Regions from separate parts of the Homo sapiens genome. Here regions 1, 2, 3, 5 and 6 are each reported to be linked to region 4. The links are microRNA targets in miRTarBase. Many come from high-throughput screens and were not tested one by one. Region 4 holds a microRNA gene; each other region holds the end of a gene's coding sequence.
The links. Region 4 holds the annotated microRNA hsa-miR-155-5p (UUAAUGCUAAUCGUGAUAGGGGUU, at 1,909-1,932, opposite strand). A microRNA usually pairs through its seed, bases 2 to 8, with sites in the 3' UTR of a target mRNA and lowers its output. Matches are read on the target gene's strand: a 7mer-m8 pairs with bases 2 to 8, a 7mer-A1 pairs with bases 2 to 7 and ends in A, and an 8mer does both.

Region 1: the mRNA of SMARCD2 is a reported target of hsa-miR-155-5p. The part of its 3' UTR that is shown has no 7-base or 8-base seed match.
Region 2: miRTarBase lists KLHL28 as a target of hsa-miR-155-5p. Seed matches in the 3' UTR shown: 7mer-A1 at 1,936-1,942.
Region 3: the mRNA of VPS35L is a reported target of hsa-miR-155-5p. Seed matches in the 3' UTR shown: 8mer at 3,111-3,118.
Region 5: the mRNA of DIAPH3 is a reported target of hsa-miR-155-5p. The part of its 3' UTR that is shown has no 7-base or 8-base seed match.
Region 6: miRTarBase lists RING1 as a target of hsa-miR-155-5p. The part of its 3' UTR that is shown has no 7-base or 8-base seed match.

The regions. Positions count from the first base shown.
Region 1 is chr17:63,829,968-63,833,552 of GRCh38, forward strand. SMARCD2 (SWI/SNF related BAF chromatin remodeling complex subunit D2) reads right to left here. Exons shown (of 13, transcript NM_001098426.2): 11 at 3,331-3,453; 12 at 3,102-3,203; 13 at 2,114-3,024. The coding sequence ends at 2,971. PSMC5 (proteasome 26S subunit, ATPase 5) reads left to right here. Exons shown (of 12, transcript NM_002805.6): 5 at 166-222; 6 at 304-534; 7 at 842-968; 8 at 1,069-1,259; 9 at 1,360-1,458; 10 at 1,539-1,649; 11 at 1,757-1,843; 12 at 1,949-2,052. The coding sequence ends at 2,002. Among named protein-coding and RNA genes, the nearest start is that of FTSJ3, 4.1 kb to the left of the region's middle.
Region 2 is chr14:44,926,166-44,929,750 of GRCh38, reverse strand. It overlaps KLHL28 (kelch like family member 28), which reads left to right. Exons shown (of 5, transcript NM_017658.5): 5 at 560-3,585. The coding sequence ends at 723. Among named protein-coding and RNA genes, the nearest start is that of DORIP1, 31 kb to the right of the region's middle.
Region 3 is chr16:19,700,222-19,703,779 of GRCh38, reverse strand. VPS35L (VPS35 endosomal protein sorting factor like) reads right to left here. Exons shown (of 31, transcript NM_020314.7): 31 at 2,617-3,402. The coding sequence ends at 3,304. It overlaps KNOP1 (lysine rich nucleolar protein 1), which reads left to right. Exons shown (of 5, transcript NM_001012991.3): 5 at 1-1,843. Among named protein-coding and RNA genes, the nearest start is that of KNOP1, 16 kb to the left of the region's middle.
Region 4 is chr21:25,572,330-25,575,914 of GRCh38, reverse strand. MIR155 (microRNA 155) reads right to left here and starts at 1,935; the gene lies at 1,871-1,935. It overlaps MIR155HG (MIR155 host gene), which reads right to left. Exons shown (of 3, transcript NR_001458.3): 3 at 747-2,022. RefSeq lists an enhancer at 111-260 and a silencer at 1,812-1,991.
Region 5 is chr13:59,663,541-59,667,125 of GRCh38, reverse strand. DIAPH3 (diaphanous related formin 3) reads left to right here. Exons shown (of 28, transcript NM_001042517.2): 28 at 280-1,543. The coding sequence ends at 542. Among named protein-coding and RNA genes, the nearest start is that of DIAPH3-AS1, 350 kb to the left of the region's middle.
Region 6 is chr6:33,211,830-33,214,829 of GRCh38, reverse strand. RING1 (ring finger protein 1) reads right to left here. Exons shown (of 7, transcript NM_002931.4): 6 at 2,828-3,000; 7 at 2,114-2,532. The coding sequence ends at 2,431. Among named protein-coding and RNA genes, the nearest start is that of RING1, 4.8 kb to the right of the region's middle.

The DNA of each region.
Region 1 (3,585 bases), not on the chromosome of region 4:
CAGGGACCAGCTCGGTCTCCACTGCATTCCCACCCCTTTGTGTGTAGCCTCGGGAGACAGGGTTCTGTGTTCTGTCAAGGTATTGTGGGATTCTCATAGGTCTTCCTGGGTAGGATTAGTGATTTGGTGGCTGTCAAGGAAGGTCATGAGCCCTTGTTTCTTTAGGTACATCCTGAAGGTAAATTTGTTGTAGACGTGGACAAAAACATTGACATCAATGATGTGAGTGTAGCAGGTGAGGTGGTGGTGGTGGTGGGGTCAGCTCTTACTGTACCACTTCTGAAACTCGCCCCCTTCACCCAGGTGACACCCAATTGCCGGGTGGCTCTAAGGAATGACAGCTACACTCTGCACAAGATCCTGCCCAACAAGGTAGACCCATTAGTGTCACTGATGATGGTGGAGAAAGTACCAGATTCAACTTATGAGATGATTGGTGGACTGGACAAACAGATCAAGGAGATCAAAGAAGTGATCGAGCTGCCTGTTAAGCATCCTGAGCTCTTCGAAGCACTGGGCATTGCTCAGCCCAAGGTGAGGAGCAGGGCTTCTCTGAGAGGGCCAAGCTGTACTTACTCCTCCTGCCCCAGCCAGCCCTACTGCAGGGGTTGGGGAGGCACCGGGATAGGCTGCATCTTGCTTGGGCTGGCCCTCCCCCTGAAAAGAGTGGCTGGGGAAGTGTTCCTAGGGCGGTGAGGTGGTTTGGATAGAAGGGACCTTGATGTTCCTTTTTTTTTTTTGTATCCCTAACATCTAGCAAGGGACCCAGCACTCGGTAAATGTTCACTGAATGAAATGAGGGGTGTAGCTTTCTGCCCTGAGTCCTGCTGTTCCCCTGTAGGGAGTGCTGCTGTATGGACCTCCAGGCACTGGGAAGACACTGTTGGCCCGGGCTGTGGCTCATCATACGGACTGTACCTTTATTCGTGTCTCTGGCTCTGAACTGGTACAGAAATTCATAGGGGAAGGTAACCATGGCTAGCAATGTGAGAAGCAAGAGGTAGGGGTAGGGGGTTAGAGAGCTAATAAGCTAATAAGCTCCCTAACACCAGCTCGGCCTCCACACAGGGGCAAGAATGGTGAGGGAGCTGTTTGTCATGGCACGGGAACATGCTCCATCTATCATCTTCATGGACGAAATCGACTCCATCGGCTCCTCGCGGCTGGAGGGGGGTTCTGGAGGGGACAGTGAAGTGCAGCGCACGATGCTGGAGTTGCTCAACCAGCTCGACGGCTTTGAGGCCACCAAGAACATCAAGGTAAGGTGGTAGCATCCTTGGGATGGGCCCAGGGAAGGCCTGGGTGCCACGCAGGCTGAGGAAGAGGTTTAGCTGATCCCCACTTGCTTTCTCTGCTCAGGTTATCATGGCTACTAATAGGATTGATATCCTGGACTCGGCACTGCTTCGCCCAGGGCGCATTGACAGAAAAATTGAATTCCCACCCCCCAATGAGGAGGTTTGTGATGGACACTGTGCAAAGTGGCTCTGGCTGTGGGGGTGGGGTGTGGGGCTCAGGCTTTTCCTTGCCATCTCCAGGCCCGGCTGGACATTTTGAAGATTCATTCTCGGAAGATGAACCTGACCCGGGGGATCAACCTGAGAAAAATTGCTGAGCTCATGCCAGGAGCATCAGGGGCTGAAGTGAAGGTAATTGGAGTACCCACTGAAAACAGGGCAGAGGCAGGAAGCTCTGGGCTCAAGGGCCACAGATGAGGGGCACAGCAGTGGGGCCTCAATTTCCTTTTCCTGTTCAGGGCGTGTGCACAGAAGCTGGCATGTATGCCCTGCGAGAACGGCGAGTCCATGTCACTCAGGAGGACTTTGAGATGGCAGTAGCCAAGGTATAGGCCTCCATCTTTGTGCCTTTGCCAGTGGTGGCTCTGGGGCAGTGGGCTAGGGCATGTGTGTGTTCGTAACTTAATGTTCATTCTCTCTCCCACCCCTAGGTCATGCAGAAGGACAGTGAGAAAAACATGTCCATCAAGAAATTATGGAAGTGAGTGGACAGCCTTTGTGTGTATCTCTCCAATAAAGCTCTGTGGGCCAAGTCCTCTAGGACTCCAGTCTGTTAATGAGGGCTGTGCTGTTCAAGGACCAGGTCCAGGCACCACCAATAGACAAAAGGATTTATTTGGAAATTTCCAAACCTGCCAGATGTGGCACTCGCCAAGCCCTAGGCCCACCCTCCTCACCAAGCTCCAAAGGGCAACACCAGTCCTCCCAGCCTCCCCATTCACCTTACCCTGGCCTCCACATGCACATACCCCATACCTCAGGCCATGCTAGAGAACTGGAGTGTCCCCTCCCCGGCCCAAGCCGCTGGAGAGGCAGCCCTCTGGCATCCCAGGAGATGATGGCGGCCAGAGCCGCTTGCATAGATTGAGGAAAGAAAAGAAGGAGGCACCTAACAGGCTCCCTGAAAACCCCCAACTTACCCCTGTACAAAAAAAGTGGCTCCCACATAGAAAACTTGCTCCCAAAATAGTGCAAATACCCAAAGGAAAGGAAAAAACCAGCAGCAAGGCTGGGCTTGTAGGAATGGCAAAGAACTTTGGTTTAGAAAGGCTAGGAAGAGTCTGGGCTGCACCTCCTCTTCCTAGCCCAGCTCCCCAGAGCCAGCTCTGACCCTCGCCCCAGGGGGAGTCTGTAAACATGCAAACCCAGCAGCCTTTGGTTCGGAAATGTCTTACAATGTCAAAGCACAGCCTCCAGCAGTCCTACTTGGGCCTGCCTGCAGGGGGGCAGAGGAGGCATCTGCTGAACCCAATTAAAGCCAATGCAAAAAGTATAAGGCTTTGGGGACCAAGCAACAAGGAATCCTATCACTACATTTATAAGACTAAAGCTGGAGAGTAGAGGGTGACAGCAGACACTCCTCACCCCAGCCTACGTGTCTGCGGCCCCAGCAAGGACCCAGAGGGTGGTCTCCCTCCAGGCTCCAGGGCTGGGAAGAAAGATCCCTGAGCAGTTAGGTCAGGCGAATTCCCAGCACCTGTTCCAGTTCCTGCCTTCGCTGCTGCACCTGGAGAAGGGAGAAACCAAGTGGCTCAGGCCTTTGCTACTCACGGCCAAAGGAGGGAAAACAGGGCAGAGCCTCACCTTGGCAAAGATGTGCCTGCCTACTGCTTCCTGGGCCCAGGGCTGGTGGTAGAAAGCAGCTCGTCTCTCCTCCTCAGGATTTCCAATCACATCAGTGATGATCTGCAAAGAGCCAGGAGGAAAGCCATAGCATAATCCCCACCCCTGGGCTAATCCACCCTGGGAACTGCTGTGGGTAAAAATCACCCAGAGCTTTACATAGGAGTCCCCTCGGGAAAGAGGACTACACCTTGAGGTCTCGGCGCTGGGAACGGAGCCATTCCTGGATGAAGTCCTGGGGGTCGGTGCTAAAACTGAGCATGAAATCTCTCTGGGTCTTCAGCTGGTTGATGGACTCAATGGTCTCATGGATCTGGAGAGGGTACCTGTGTCAGACTGTGCCCCCAAAGCTTACATGCAAGCAACTGAGCCAGAGTTCCCATCCCGTCCTCCAGGTGCTACATGTATGGAAATGCTGGACAGAGCCAGCCCACCCCAATCCTGG
Region 2 (3,585 bases), not on the chromosome of region 4:
CCTCAAACTTTTGGCCTCCAGCCATCCTCTCACCTCAGTAACTCTTACTTTTATTATAAGGATTTTGTTTTTCCATCAAGCTCATATTGCTCCAGTAGGCCCCCCATACCCACAGGAGATATATATTCCAAGACCCCCAGTGGACTGAAACTGCAGATAGTACCAAACCCTATATATGTAATATTTTTTCCTATACATATATATCTATGATAAGGTTTAGTTTGTAAATTAGGCGCAGTAAGAGATTAGCAACAACAATAATAGAATAGAACAATTGTAACAATATATTGTAATAAAAGTTATGTGGATGTGGTCTCCCTCAAAATATCTTACTGTACAGTACTCCCTATTTTCTAGTCATGGTTGACTTCAGGTAACTGAAAGCATGGAAAGCAAAAACTCAGATAAAGGGAGGACTACTGTATATTGCCTGTATAATTAATAATAGATTGTTAAAATGTATTTTAATAAAACATTAAAATACAAATTTATTTTTAGTGAGAAAAAGTATACTTCATGGTTAACATGTTTCTATCTTCTTTTTGCCAACCTTTCCTAGGAGTTGGTGCTGCTGTAATCGATAACTACCTTTATGTCGTCGGTGGTCACTCAGGGTCTTCCTATCTGAATACAGTGCAGAAATATGATCCTATCTCAGATACGTGGCTGGATTCAGCTGGCATGATATACTGTCGCTGCAACTTTGGGTTAACTGCACTTTGACAAATGTGAACTCTCGGAAATAGTATGGTGGTGAAACTTGTACTGCATGAACATCCGGATGGCCCAGTTTTCTGAAACCCACAAGCTGCATTGCTTTCTTTTTAACTTGAAGTAGCATGAAGGCTCAAAAGTTTTGTTGGGTACTTTTAATTGAGAAGTAGTTTTGGTTGCTCTTGATTACACAGTAAATCAATAATCAAAAAGAAAAAAGAGAAAAAAAAAAAGTAAAGACTTTGCCAATTGAATTCTGCACTTTTTCCCCCAAGACTGAGATGTACTAGTTTTATGTTCATAAGTGTACATGTAGACAAAACGTGGCTGCTTTTTTTTTTTTTTTTTTTTTATTTTAGCTCTCCTTCCCTGATAACCATGATTTTCTAGGATGAGCGATGCTTTAGGTGCTGGAGTGTATTGAATGAATGGACAGAGTGCTGATACTGCTTCTTGGATGTAAATGCTTCACATTTTTCATTTGTTTTAAAACAAACAAAGGGCTGCTTTTTATTTTGGTACTTTTAAAGGTTGTAAATAACATGCCAATAGGTAGTCATCTGAATACTTTCCTGCTAAATGGTTTTAGGGCTACGGATGTAATAAATTTTTAAGACAATTGCTTTTATTATCATGATATTTGGGGCCCTATTTTAGGAAATCAGATATTTACTGTTTATGCCTTTTGTATATGGGCAGGTTAACGTTGGATGAATTTAATTACCTATCTATGCTATGGTTAGCATGGATAGGAGTTTAAGCATATCAGGTGTTTCAGTTTTTCTTCAGTAGTACAGCAGGCCTCCCAGTGCTGATGTAAATATTTGAGCAGTGTTTAGTACCATTCTTAGTGCATATTAATTTTTTTATATATCCTTATAATTTTAGTTTTTTAAGATCTTTGCTTTTTCAAAGTGTTCAGATATAAAATGGTGCTAACTGTAGGATTTATAACAAGGCTATAACTGATGTCCTTTTGGATGTTCAGTATGAGATATGCATGACATGTTTTGATAGTCTTTTGCATTTTTAATGGCTTGATTCATTTGTGCTTATTAAAAATGTTAGTGATTACGCCAATGTTAACATCCAAAAATCATCAGAATGGCCTGTGTTATGCTTTTCATGGTTCCTGAATAGTGATTTAAAGAAAGTTACACTTTTGATCTTCTTTCTTCTTGTGCTAGATATTACATGTCTTTCTTAAAAACAGAAATATATGCATTAAATATAAAGCACTAGGCAGTTATGCATTACTTTGTACATTTCTTAGGTAACTGAATATTTTAAGGTTATTGAGGAAAACTGGAACTCGATGTTTACTTGAGTAATAGTTCTAAGTTGAGTTCTACTTTGATTAAAGAAATGATCTTTTAAAGCAAAATTGTTTGCTGTAGCCAGTGACAGCTTATTTAAAGAAAGTGTTTAACTTATTTGATTTTAGCATGTTTTAGTAAATGTCTGTTAGTCTTAAACACATTCACTTGCATTTTATTATTATGTCGGTACTTGTATTTTGGAACTGTAGTCATTTGATTTTCTTTTCCTTGATTTTTTTTAAACCTGTTTGCGATCTCCTTATAAAGTCTCTGCAAGATAATTTTTCTTAAGAAAAAAATTCATATTATATTCTTAAGTGCCATAATGTTCTAGACTATTGTTAAGAAGCCATTTGTAATTATAAAACATAGGTTCATTTGTTAGTATATATGTTTATTTCTTGAATACTATAGCCGGGCAATTTACAGTTCTTTGTTCTTCCATAAACTGCCAGTTGTAGATTTGAATATATACTACAAAACTATGTAAAATCATTTTTAATCATAAATGTAGTATCATGCTTTATGAATATTTGCACAGATTATAAAACCTTGCAAGTGATTTTTAGTCTCTTCTAATTTAGAACTCAACAGGAGCAACTAATAACAATTGATAGTCTGAGTATTTTCTATGTTGCTTGTCTGAATAACATAATAATATATAGCAATAACTTTTTCATTGATTTGAATAAATCTATTGCATAGAAATAGGTGCACTATTGTAGTTGGCCCAGACTTTATTTAAAGAAAAGCAGTTTAAAATAGATTCATCACATATTTAGTTTTAAATCCCCAATTCAGTTTTCTTTGTTTATAGCAATCAAATTATTAAATATATCCTATTATACTATTTTTAATCCCCTATTCCCAAAAGATAAGGGAATTTGAAAGACTGTGGAAAATGATTTTAGGACGGGCGCAGTGGCTCACGCCTGTAATCCCAGCACTTGGAGAGGCCAAGGCGGGTATATCACCTGAGGTCAGGAGTTCGAGACCAGCCTGGCCAACATGGTGAAACCCCGTCTCTACTAAAAATACAAAAAATTAGCTGGGCATTGTGGCAGGTACCTGTAATCCCAGCTACTTGGGAGGCTGAGGCAGGAGAATCACTTGAACCCAGGAGGCAGAGGTTGCAGTGAGCCGAGCTTGCACCATTGCACTCCAGCCTGGGCAACAAGAGTGAAACTCCACCTCAAAAAAAAAAAAAGATTTTAATTATAAACACATCTATTCTATACATTGTATTTTAACAATATTTTACTCATGTATCATCTCCACTATCAAATTAGTGTATAATCATTTGGTAAATTAGATCAAAAACATATACTGGTCATTGTTTTTGAAAAATCTAAATTTCATCTTGATGAAGACTAAATGTGAAATATCTTGGGCAGTAGTAGTAGGAGCCATACACCAGTGAACAAATTATGAAAATCTGTGAAAGGAAGAGGAAAAATGTTCAAAATTTAGAAGTATATTTATTTTAGGATTGCTTAACCTACTGTATTATTCGTAACAACCAGAGCTACTAATCTGACCTGACAACTAATAT
Region 3 (3,558 bases), not on the chromosome of region 4:
TTTGCTTTCTGCCAGTGCAGATCACCATCTCTCAGATGAGCAGGACCCCACCCTCTGGCAGTCTTGTCTTGGGAGAATCACTCTGAGCTCCCATCCTTTGTAAATTAACATTGGTTTGAGCACCACCCTCCATCACGGCTGCAGTGAGCCATGATTGCACCACTGTGTTCCAGCCTGGGTGACAGAGCAAGACCCCATTCCAAAAAAAAAAAAAAATTTGCCAAATAGACACAGTCCTCACAAAAGAAGTTGGCAGAATAACACCCCTTCCTACCACATCTCCTCAGAACCTGTGTATTTGTTAGGTTACGAAACAAAAGGGAATTAAGTTTGCTAATCAGCTGACCTTAAAACAGGAAGAGGATCCCGTGTTTCTGGGTGGGCCGGAGGAATCACAAAGATCCCTAAATGTGGAAGAGGAAGGCAAAAAAGAGTCCACATCAAAGAGACTTAAGAAAGACTTGACTAGACACTGCTGGTTTTGAAGATGGGAAGGGAAGGGTCAGAAGCCAAGGAATGTGTGTGCTGTCTAGAAGCTGGAAAAGGCAAGGAAGTAGATTCTCCCCTAGAGCCTCCCAGAAGGAGCGTAGCCCTGCTGATGCCTTAATTTTAGCTCAGTGAGACCAGGCGGACTTAAGACCTATAGAACCGTCAGATGACAACATTATGTTTTAAGCCGCTACAATTGTGGCAATTTGTTAAAGTAACAATAGAAGACCTAATGTAAGTAAGTCTCATGTGGAAGTTGCCATGGTTTTGTTTTTCTTTCTTTTTTTTTTTTTGAGACAGTCTCACTCTCACTCCACGCCCAGGCTGGAGTGCAGAGGCGTGATCTCAGCTCACTGCAACCTCCACCTCCAGGGTTCAAGCGATTCTCCTGCCTCAGCCTCCTGAGAAGCTGGGATTACAGGTGAGCACCACCACACCCAGCTAATTTTTTTTTGTATTTTTAGTAGAGATGGAGTTTCACCATGTTGGCCAGGATGGTCTTGATCTCTTGGCCTCATGATCCACCTACCTCAGCCTCCCAAAGTGTTGGTATTACAGGCATGAGCCACCGCACCCAGGCCCCATCATTTTTATTTTCTACAATTCTGGCTGACATCTTATTGCTCCATCCTTGCTAATGATAGACTTCATCTCACATAGACCAGTGTTTTCAGAGACCGGCTTATTGATTCAGTAAAGGGCTGGGGGAAACTGCACACACAAGGACATATAAAATCTAAGCCTCTGCCTGGGCCACATGACAGGATTCAGAAGCACCTTTGATATAATGGGTGCCCGACCTCATGTGAAAGTCCAAGTTCAGGTGTAATGTGAGAGCGGTAAGAATTCACTGGCCTAGGCTTGGGAACTAATGCTGCCCACCACGTTCAGCCTCAGAGGAGAAGAAATGACTTGAAGAACATAATTTGTGAATTTGCCAATTGTTTTTCATTTTATAGCATCACACAGTAAAAGTAGATAAAATAATTTTAATGAAAATACTTCTGTGGGCCAGGTGCGGTGGCTTACGCCTGTAATCCCAGCACTTTGGGAGGCCGAGGCGGCGGATCACCTGAGGTCAGGAGTTCTAGACCAGCCTGACCAACATGGAGAAACCCCATCTCTACTAAAAATACAAAATTAGCTGGGTGTGGTGGCGCACTCCTGTTATCCCAGCTACTCAGGAGGCTGAGGCAGGAGAATTGCTTAGACTCGGGAGGCGGAGGTTGGGGTGAGCCGAGATCACGCCATTGTACTCCAGCCTGGGCAACAAGAGTGAAACTGTCTCAAAAAAAAGAAAAAAAAACAGAATTTTGTGAAATAAAGGCCACTTGGGAGTATCTGAGCCACCCCACAATGCTGTCTGAGTTTCTGTATGATTTAGTAGAGGGGAGGGAAAGAAGCATTCATTAGTGTCTGCTGTCCTTTAATTTTTTTTGAGATGAGATGATATTTTGCTCTTGTCACTCAGGCTGGAGTGCAGTGACGCAATCTCGGCTCACTGCAACCTCCGCCTCCTGGGTTCAAGCGATTCTCCTGCCTCAGCCTCCCAAGTAGCTGGGATTACAGGTGTGTGCCACCACGCCTGGCTAATTTTTGTATTGTTAGTAGAGACGGGGTTTCACCATGTTGGCCAGGCTGGTCTCGAATTCCTGACCTCAGGTGATCTGCCTGCCTCAGCCTCCCAAAGTGCTGGGATTACAGGCGTGAATCACCGTGCCCGGCCAATAAATTGATTTAAAAAAATTTTTTAGCCCCTTTTACTGTCTGAGGTTAACTGAGTGTTCAACTGTAGTCTTGTATTTCTCAGAGTAAAGATGAAATGTAATCTATGTCCAGTTCCAGTGTGGATCTTGTAGAAGCACAATAGTTTGGGGCATTTTTAATCCACAGTGTGGATGCATTTTCATAATGGCAGTGGCTGAGATGATGAATCACCCATCAGTATGAATGTTTTTACTGATTCAAAATGAAATGTCGGTGCAAGCTCACCAGCCGTAATAGAAGAATCAGGTTCCACCAAACTGTTGGAAGAAAAGCAGACAGAATCACATGCTGTTTAGAATTGTGGCTGCAAAACAAACCAGGATAATATATTTAGACACGGTCTTTCTCTTCTGGAGGAAGACAGTCAGAAGTAATTAAATGAACAGTCATGAACATAAATGCTCCTTCAGGACATTTATTCAGTTACTGTATACTGAAGCCACAGAGAATCTCAAATTTGACCTCGCTTTCTCCTTTGATCCACCAACACAGATTCTAAGTCCAATCAAGAGCTGCTTTTGATAGGAAAAAGAGTTAATGGAGTGCTATTTCTGCCTTTTATAAATCCTCCATAGGGGTTCAGGTAACACAGTTCCAGACTTTGGGTGTGCTCTAACTTTAAGGTACAAAGTCTGGAATGGAATGGGTCTGGAACAGTGGCACTTTGAAAAGCAGTCCACTTTTAAAGTCCTTATTTCTAAACTATGAAAAAACAAACACCTTCCAGAGAAGAAAGATGTTACTTGCATTCTTGTTTCTCTCTTGCTAAAAAGGCCCATCAGATCGGGCTGAGTAGACCGAAGGCCACTTGTGCAAAGACAACACAGAGACTGCTTCTTAGTGAAGATTGCATTTTAATGCTCTGACAACTCCCATTTCTTCATTGTCAGAATAACCTGGATAGAGGCCAAAGCTTAAAACAATTTGTACATATGTAAAAAGAAAAGAAAAATGAGAAACCTAAATTGCCGTAAGAGTTCAGGGCAGCAGAGCAGATCTTTCTGGATTTGGCACCAGAGTCCCTGAGCCTGGGGATGGGCCCGGGGGTCAGGTCCTTGTTTGCAGAGGGAGTCTGAGGGCCAGCTCCGTCAGATGAGTCATGTCTGGTTGTTTGCTTTGCTTCTTGATGTATTCTAGCGTTTTCACCTATGAGGAAAAAGAAAGATCCATCTCCTTTCTGGTTCATTATCCTTGGAGCCCAAGGCTCTAATGAATCAGCCATTATGTGAGCTTAGATTTCTTAGCAGAGAAGAGTGAGTTTTTTGAGGGATGAGAGGAGGGAAGAAATCAAAGTCTTCAACT
Region 4 (3,585 bases):
CCAGTCCTAATGTTCTATGACTTTGTGTCTTTAGGCAGCAAGCAGGATTTTGAAGAACTGGGACTCAAAGCAAGGAGTCCTCTTGTAGATATACAGTGGCAGATAAAATGAATTGAACAGACACTTTTTTTTTTTTTTGAGATGGAGTCTCACTCTGTCACCCAGGCTGGAGGGCAGTGGCACGATCTTCGTTCACTGTGAACTCCACCTCCTGGGTTCAAGTGATTCTTCTGCCCCAGCCTCCTGAGTATCTGGGATTACAGGCACGCACCACCATGCCTAGCTAATTTTTGTATTTTTAGTAGAGACGAGGTTTCACTATGTTGGCCAGGGTAGTGTAGAACTCCTGACCTCAAGTGAACCACCCGCCTTGGCCTCCCAAAGTGTTGGAATTATAGGCGTGAGCCACTGTGCCTGGCCTGAAGAAACACTCTTGAATGTGTTCTACCTACATGGGAGCTCCGTGGAGCCACAAGCTCATTCCAGGTGTTAGGAGAAGAAATTTGTGTTGGCAGCACATACAACTTGAACAGAAAGTGAGGAGAAGAAATTTGTCTTGGCAGCACATACAACTTGAACAGAAAGTGGGGCAAAGCCAAATGGGTATTCTTACATGAGAATACTGTGTCCTAGGAGTCAGGAATGTTCCCTTTAGTGTCCTCATAATTTTCTTCCATTGTCTTTTTTTGGCAGATAGCTTCTGGAATTATAATTTGTACTTTGCAAAAGAAAATGGGCCATAAAAATTATTTTAAATCAACTAAAGACTCATGAGATTTATTTGGTTACAGTGAATAACCTGGACAAAATGTTGAGAAGAGTTGTTAAAACAAGTTTACATTAAATATACTAACAATTACGTTTGGTTACATATTTGTAAGTGATGGTTATTTAGAAAAACTGCATAGAAATCCAAACCTTAAATATTCTGCAAATCAAATCATTAGCTTTTCTCTTCTCTAATAAAGTAGGGTGACTAGTTCTTGGATTAATCTAACTATAACATTAATGTAGCACTTGATTATCTTATGGAATAATTCTCTATCTCATCTAAGCCTCACAACAACCTTGTAAAGTATTATCCCCATATGGAGGAAGAAACAGGCTTAGAAGTGGAAAGGTAGATTCTCTGCTCGCACAACCGTATTATGTGGCTAAGCTATTGAACTTGAACCTAGATTTGGGACTTCATTTCAAATATGAAATTTTTTGATTAAATCTTTTTATCTTGTATGGAAAAAATATCTCATTAGCTGTCAGATGTTATTTACCCTGCTAACTGTTAAAAATATTTCATTAAAAAAATTCAGCTTCATAGCCTTTCAGTTTCCCTTTAAGAGTCAAATAAAAGTATTAATTTTAAACTGAAGTTGCCTGAACAGAAAATCGTTACCTGGGGGAAAGTACCAGTTTCTAAATCTTTTAAAAAACGTTGCCAGACAATCCATGATATAACTGGAGGTTAGTAGTCCTTCTAATTTTTAACTACAAAAATATTATAGAAATTTGTGTTTAGCCCACATTTCTAACAGTTGAATCAAAGGTGTTTATGAACATTATAATGAACAAGCCAAAACCTGCAATTAAGAATGACATGAATATATTTTCTGTTAATGATAAAAACAAACATGGGCTTGACATTTAAATGAAAATGTTTGCATTTAGGATACTACTGATAAATCTTTTAAATAACCTTACTTTCAAAACTTAGTTTAAGGTTGAACATCCCAGTGACCAGATTATGATTAACAGATTGAAAAATGATAAAGCCTGAAGTCTAAGTTTATCCAGCAGGGTGACTCATGCTTCTTTGTCATCCTCCCACGGCAGCAATTTGTTCCATGTGAATGCTAGTAACAGGCATCATACACTGTTAATGCTAATATGTAGGAGTCAGTTGGAGGCAAAAACCCCTATCACGATTAGCATTAACAGCATACAGCCTACAGCAAGCCTTCAGCACTCAGAGGATGAGGCATAAAGAATTTAAACCACAGATTTCCCCTTCCTGGTTTGTGCCACCTGCAAGAGAGAAAGAAATGTTTGTGTATGCACATGCGGTTATAAAGCTGGAGTGACAGCATATAGTAAATCTGAAAGGAAAATAGTCCATTTTCTGTTGAAAGGAAGGAGCTCATTAAATCCTTGGAAGTAATTTTTTGAAAGTGGTAGAGAAATTGGCAATTAAAAGATGACATTGTTACCTTTAGGCATATTTGAAGACTTTGAAAATTATGTTTTAAATTCTATTCTCTAGTTTTGAATCGGGTACACATATGTATCATCTTCTTTAAATAAAAAACAAAAACCGCTCTTCGGAGTTTTCAAATGCCAAAATGCAAAGAGGAAAGCTTGCATTCTGACACAGTACAGTTTTTTTTTTTTCTGATTTGTACTTCATCTAGGAGCTAGACAATTAAAGGCCCAAATGTTCAAAATAGTCCTTTATGATTTATGAAAATTAAAACCCAATTAACCTGTTTTATAAGGGTAGGGTTCAGGCTGAATTTTTCTTTCTGTAATACATAGTTGAAGTTTTACCTTTATTCTTTCAGGAAATGTGATACAAGCAATGGAGGTTTGCCTACAAACGAATCTATCTGAAAATGTCCCCGTCTACTATTTAGAGATTCCTTTGGGGAAAGCACTACCCAGTGGCTTTGGTTTTGACTACATAAAGGAAGTATGACTTAAAGAGTCCTCTGTGTTTCAAACTACTTGTCTTAGGCAGAGGGTTGATTAAAAAAAAGAACAAGATGAATTTGCTACTTCCTTTTAGAGTCTGATTTTACTCTCTCAGATAAAGTGACATTTCTCCCACAGGTTTCTGATTTCAGTGTTACTATAACAGAACCTAGAAGTTAGAGTATCATTCAAGTATGTGGTCTCCTGCAGTACAAGAGGGGAATCACCTTTTCTTTTATTTAATAATGAAACCAGCTAGATATAAAAATGTGACTAAGTTCAAAAGAAACGTATGAAGTAAAAAATTCCCCAGTGAATATATTTTGACAGGGCAGAATATCGTGGTTTGGAAATTTCCAAACCAAGGAAATATATTATTCTTACTGATAGTATTTTTTTTTAAACTTTACTGTTTTCTGAGATGAATTAGTTGATGATGAAAAAATTTGGGTTAAATGATGTCACTTCAGGAATTCAATTCATTTTACAGAATTTCAGTCAATAAAGATTGTAAAAACAAGGACTTTTTTTCCCCCTTACAGGGTCCTGGACACAGTAAATGCTCAATAAATACATATTAATAATGTAGTGTTAGTGCCACCCCAGCCAATATAACTCGCCCTTTTCTTAAAAGATGTGTTTAATTTGTATTGAAGGTAAATTGCTGGCATACTATTCTACCCATAAATTTTATTCCTGTTCTTTAAAGATAACATATGAGCACAGGTATTAAAATAAATATATTTAGTATACTAATTAGCTTTTTCCCTCTTTTTAAATATACATACGAATTGCCTGATTAGAGCACTCAGAAAAGTGACAGTGTTTTTGATAATGTGTTATATATATTAAAAATTCTAATAGCTTTTTTTATTTGTTCAAACTCTAAATGTATATTGA
Region 5 (3,585 bases), not on the chromosome of region 4:
GGCCCTGATAATAACCACGTGACAGGCATGTCAGGCATAAAGGAAGAAGGAAATGGGCATTAGTGCTAATGAAACGGTTGGCTGTTATATTTTAGTTTATTCTTAAACCCCTGTGTGATTATTTTAAACCTGTCTTACTCTGTTGACTGTTTCTTTGTTTAGTCTATCTAAGAAGACTACTTATTTATTGAGAATAATTATTTTAAATGTGTTTCATAACGTGCACAGTCCTTGGTTATCATGGTGATAAGTTTTATGTTTCTTTTTTCCTTACTGTAGAAAATCAGAAAGTGCAGTTGACAGAAGGGTCACGTTCACACTACAATATCAATTGCAACTCAACAAGGACTCCAGTCGCCAAGGAGCTTAATTATAATCTAGACACTCATACGTCTACTGGGAGGATCAAGGCAGCTGAGAAGAAGGAAGCGTGTAATGTAGAAAGCAACAGAAAAAAGGAAACGGAACTTCTTGGCTCTTTTTCTAAAAATGAATCAGTTCCCGAAGTTGAAGCCCTGCTGGCAAGATTACGAGCTTTATAAGTTAAACTGGTTTTTAAAAAAAATGATTAAGCCAAATATAAAGCCATGCTCTAAACTATAACACTTGAAAAAATTGCTTTTATGTAAGTGACTTTATATAGTTTTAAATTATGATATATATTAGAAAAATAAAGCTAAATATATGATTGCAATGCTTTTTCTATGTACTGGAGGTTTTGGTTTATTCAAGATTGTACCGGGCTTTAATCCTTTTTTTTTTTTTTTTGTCTCCTGGTATTCCTCAGTTCTTTATTTGGTGGTTAAATTATACATATTGCTTTAGAGAGCAGGTAGGTGGCCATGTGTTCAGCAGTGTGTCCTTAAGAAAATACCATCTTTCTAAGCCACTGGAATTTTTACTTTACTATTTTTAACATTAATGGATGTCAGGTCATCAACCTCAAGTCTTTACATATCCATGTATATTCCATATATATTGTTTATATAGGCCCAAGTTTCTCCTTAATTGGGATCTATATACTACCAGCACAACATCAAAAACATGTAATTGAATACATCAGAGCTATATATGTAAGGAAATGACTGGTGACCCCATTATCATCATTGTTGAATTCATGTTAAGTAGACCCTCTAGGGGACCATAAGGCAATTGAGCACATAACGAAAAATGATGCAATAAGAATGTATGCACTCTCTTTGCCAAATGCATGTGCTTTTGTGTAACGTGGATGTAAACAGAATTGCAGTGCTGCCGAAATTCTTGATCTTGGCTAAGAGAGTATTTTTCCCCTTGTAATTATGACTCTGAGATAAAATTGCCATTTTGAAATTTCCAAAGTAACAACTTTTTTTATTTTATGAATAAACTTGGGATTGCAATTTCTCTGATCTGACAATCAATAACTTTAACAAAGATCTAAATAAGTGTTTCAAGGAAAGTTTTCCTAAGCAAATGTAATATTACCTCATTTGGGCATCATTACTCTGTTAATTCTATATCAAAGGAAATAAACTTGCTACTTGCACTAAATGAAAAAAAATGCTTTCTTTTGTCTCTCTTTTTTTGAAAACATTCTGTGGATAAGCTGAGAATAGACTGTGCTATGCAGTCTGTCTAAGCATCTATTTTGCTTTATTACATGTAATAAGTAAGTGACTGTTCTTTTACCTTCAGTTAAAAAGCAGTTATATGGAACTAGTCGGGCAAGGTCTATTGCTTTTTATTTCCTTAAGTTGCCACCTCCTTTCAGCTCTAAGTTAATAAAGTTAATTAATTAGAACTATGAGCCAGGCCCTGTTTATAGACATTGGAGAACAGAGTATTCTCTGTAGCCAGTGTAGGAATAAATGTGAATTTGTATGTATTGCTGAAATGTGCATTTTGCCATCCAGTTGCAATTCCTGTTTTTCTGAAAACAAACCTTAAAAATCAAGAAAGGTGAAGGACATTTACATATTTAAGCTGACGGCACCCCTAACAACAAGGCAGGATTGTTTTGTTTAGGAAAGAATTTAAATGAAAGAACTCTCACTATCAGTTCTTAATGTGATTTTGCAGACTTGGGTTTTTCAGAAACAAAACTTAAATTCAACTAGATAGTTTGGGCACACCAGGAAGCAGGTAAAAACTCTGGAAACTTGGGACCGGGGAGCAGCCACGGGGGAGAAGAAGCCCGGCAAATAAAGGAAAGTGAAGATGACGGAGACTCCGAGGGGCAGAGGAAGGCAAGGAAGTCCAGAAATGGAGCAGTCAAGCCCCAGAGCGTCTGTCTGCAGGGGCTGAGGACAACTTTCAAGCAAGAGGGCCAGGAGCCCAAGGCTAGCAGAGTATCAGAAGCGTCTGGCCACCCACAGGTCAGCAGCCAGCACTCTCTCTCCCTTGATGACAGCAGCTGGCTCCAAAAAGGACCATAGCTGTGGAAAGGAAACCTCTAAATGTCTGATAAAGGTGAGTACCAACTCAAGGAACGATCATTTGGAGATACTTTTATTGGTAGATGCCCTTTCAGCAATGGGCTAGAGGTATGATTAGGGTTTTAAAATGCATGATATTTCCTTAGCCAAACCATAGCATTGACCTTTAATTTGAGGGCAGGAGTTGAGGTACAATTTTATTTTTTTGAATAAGCAGTTTGTTCATTTGAATGAGCCAGTATAATGATTAATTTTTTTTTTTTTTTTGAGACAGAGTCTGTCGCCCAGGCTGGAGTGCACTGGTGCGATCTCTGCTCTCTGCAAGCTCTGCCTCCCAGGTTCACACCACTCTCCTGCCTCAGCCTCCCGAGTAGCTAGGACTATAGGCGCCCACCACCACGTCTGGCTAATTTTTAGTAGAGACGGGGTTTCACTGTGTTAGCCAGAATGGTCTCGATCTCCTGACCTCGTGATCCGCCCGCCTAGGCCTCCCAAAGTGCTGGGATTACAGGCATGAGCCACCGTGCCCGGCAGATGATTAATTTTATGTGTCAACTTGACTGGGCTAAAGGATGCCCCAGACAAGCGGTACGGTTTTATTTCTTATTGTGCCTGTGAGGGTGTTTCTGGAAGAGATTTGCATTTGCATACATAGACTGAATAAGGAAGATAGCCCTCCCACTGTAGGTGGGCATCATCCAGTCTCCTGAGGGCCAGAATAGAACAGAAAGTGGAGAAAGTGTAAATCTGCACACTCTACTTCAGTTGCGACATCGTCCTCTCCTGCCCTTTCTCATCGGCCTTCCCGGTTCGTGGACCTTTGAACTCAGACTAGGATTTACATCACGGGCTTTTCTGCTTCTCAGGCCTTTGAGGTTGGACTGGAATTACACCTTCAGCTGGCAGATGGCAGATGGTGGGACTTCTCAGCTTCCAAAAAATCACCTGGTCCAATCCCTCATTATAAACCGTGCACTCTCCCTCTCTCTCTTTCTTTTGTCTGTCTCTCTAAGTGTGTGTGTGTGTGTGTGTGTGTGTGTGTGCATCTTGACAAGGATGTTCCATCCAGGCCAGTGACAAACCCCATGATATGGTTTGGCAGTGTCCCCATCCAAATCTCATCTTGAATTGTAGCTCCCATAATTCCCATGTGTCATGGGAGGGACCT
Region 6 (3,000 bases), not on the chromosome of region 4:
CCAAGAATTTGCATTTCTAACAAGTTCCCAGGCGATGCTGATGCTGCTAGTCTGGGATCCACACTGGGAGAGCCACTGATCTGTTAGGCGTGTAACTTTACTTGTATTATCTCTCAATTCTCAGGGCAACCTGTTACTCTCCCCCATTTTGCAGGTGAAGAAACAGAGGGAAGACCCAGTGCCTTGTGCAAGGTGGCTCAGTTTGTAAGTGGCAGAGCCGATTTGAACCCACGTTTGTCTGACTCTAATACTGTATCAACCCTCCTTCCTCTACCCTGTTCCTCTGCATTGTCAACTATTCCACATGTATCTTGTTCCTCAACAAAATAGTAACGTTTTCTTTTGCATACTTTATATCTCTCACCTTGCCTGACCCAGTAACATAGGCTTGGTTGGGAGGGACTGAAGGACTTGGAAAGGAAATGCCCCAGTGGAGCCAGGATGGAAATGGGTTCCTCTGTGTCTCCCACATGGTGTCACCTAAATAAACAGCCATGTCTGTGAGGTTCAGTCATGGGGAGAGGAGGGCAAGAGAGCACTCGCACCAAGCGATGGGGTTAGGGGGACACGAAAGGAAATGTGATAAATAGAGAGGGGGGCGTGTGGGGCAAAGGTGAGGACTGGGGACCCGGGAGGGGGCAGGCTGTTTCAGAGTGAAGGCAGGACGGGCAGCAGAGACAGAGAAGAGGCTGCCGGGTGGTTAGGGCTGGGGAGGACAAGGAGGGTGAGGACAGACGATCCCGGCAGCCCCTGGAGCCAGAAGAGAAGTCAGGTTAACTCCAGACTTTTGGCTTCCACCTCTGTATCTCACCCAACTCCTCCCCACCTGCTTCTCTACCCTGAAACTCCAGGAACAACGCCCACCTGCCTCCCACTACAACTTCCCCTTATACCGTACACGTCCTGGATGCTTGGGGTCCGGGAGGAGGGGAGTCAGGATCACGGGTTCCAGGGAAGTGAGTGTAGAAAGGGGCTCCTACGAGGGTAGAAGTGGGTGTTGTCTGCTTCTGCAGGAAAGGGGCCAGCCAGCCCAACTGGTCCGCAGTACTTGCTGGGGCTGGAGGATGCCCACCTGCATCTACGGGATTGAGGGTACCGGAGAGGAGGCGAACAAACGAGAAATCCCAAGGGTGGAGAAGGGAGCCATGGGATCGGCGGGCGGGCCGCGCAGCTGCGGAACTGGGAGGGCCAAGCGGGCTTTAGGGGGAAACACGGCCGGCTCCTCTGCCAGTGAGACAGAGAACTGAGCATGGGGGAGGAATTTGGGGCCAGAGGGGCTGGGGGTACCCAGAGCAGAGGAAACAGGAAGTGAGGGGCAGAGAGGTTACGGGTGGTGGAAGGAACAGCAGTCGGTTCTGGAGAGGCGATTCCTCTTCCCCGAATACCTGCACTGCCCCGGACCGGGAGTGCAGTCGTGCGCCCCTGTCCCCCCAGCCTCAGGCTTGGTGCCCAGCCCCGCTCGCGGAACTCGAGGCCAGTAAGGCAGCCGCGGCTTTCCTTGATGCCCCCACTCCTCTGCTCTCAGCCGCTGCCTGGACGAGCACAGAACTAGTGTTCCCAGGCGACCCTCCCTCCGCTCAGCCCCGCTGCCCGGCGGGCAAAGGCTGTGCACTCACACTCCGAGTCTGCAGCCCAGCCTGCCCTTTTTTGGGAGGTGGCCCGGGGACTGGGATGTCGAACAGGGAGCTTCTCCGCAGTCCTCTCCACCTCCCTCCCTCTTTCCAGCTATAGAAACCGGCTGCTCGCAGTGACTTCCAAACATCACGGTCATTCCCACATCTACACACATCCCTTTCTCTTTTGAGCCATTTTCCTGCTTTCCCTTTGGTGTTGAAACCCTGGATTTCAGCCTGGGCGACTCAGGTTTTAGGGGGGAAAGTTTGGGGTCTAACTTGGCACCTCTGTTTTTTATCCTCTCTTCCAGCTTCATAGATGGTTCCTATTTTCATACATATTTGCTAATTTGGAGTTTCCGACGACATATCTCGAATAACCCGACATTTTCTCCCCATTTCCAAGGCTGATTTTACATTATTTCTAGGCCTCCCTCCCCAATCTATTTTCCTTTCTTTTTCTTGTACACCCCTGATAAACAGACACACAGAACTGCAGGTTTCAAAGAGGAAAAAAGCACGTTTGTTGTTGGTAGGCGGGCGTGAATGGGAGGGTTCTTCACCTTCTCCAACACCTCGTATAGATGGGACGTTGCAGGGCAATAGAAAAGGCAGCAGATGGGGGCGTGTTTTGCCCCACTCTGTACAATATAGAAGAATCTCATATAGATACTTTGTATAAAAGCCACGTGTCCTCATTTGTGTCCTCTTATTGGCTGGCTGGGCTGGGGGTACTGGGGGACAAAGAAGCTGGGGTGATAGACCAGGACACAGGGATACCCCATGGTCCCCTTCCTCTGGCTGTCCCCTGGTGGGGTCACTTTGGATCCTTGGTGGGAGCATAGCACAGCTCCAGTGGCCGGGACACCTTCCAGAATTTCTCATTCACCAGCTCCAGGGTCAGCGAGCCATTCAACGTCTGAGGAGGGGGTAAAAGGGAGAGAGGGGAAAAGAGAGAGGAAAGTTGGAGAAGATGGAAAAGGAAATGAATGAGAGGCAAAAGGTGACCAAGGGAGGAGGAAAGAAAAAAGGAATAATAAAAGCGATAAGGCAAAAAAGGACATGGATGATGGGAAAGGAGAGGGGACATAGAAAGAGATAGAGGATGTATAGGGGAAGAGTGCTGATGAGTTAGACCAGGCTCATGGTTCTATGTGGCCCAGACCACCCTCCCTCCTCTCCCCTCTTCTACCACTGCCCTCAGAAGCTCTCACCGTGAACGCCCCGCCTCCAGGTGCGATGTAGATGGTGTACTGCTTTTCACTGACGCCCTCCAGGCTGGGCAAAGCAGGCTCCTCAGGACCGTCACCTCCTCCGGCACCCCCACCCTCCCCGCCACACCCATCAGGTCCTCCGGTGTCAGAGGCGCCCCCTCCAGGCCCTCCTG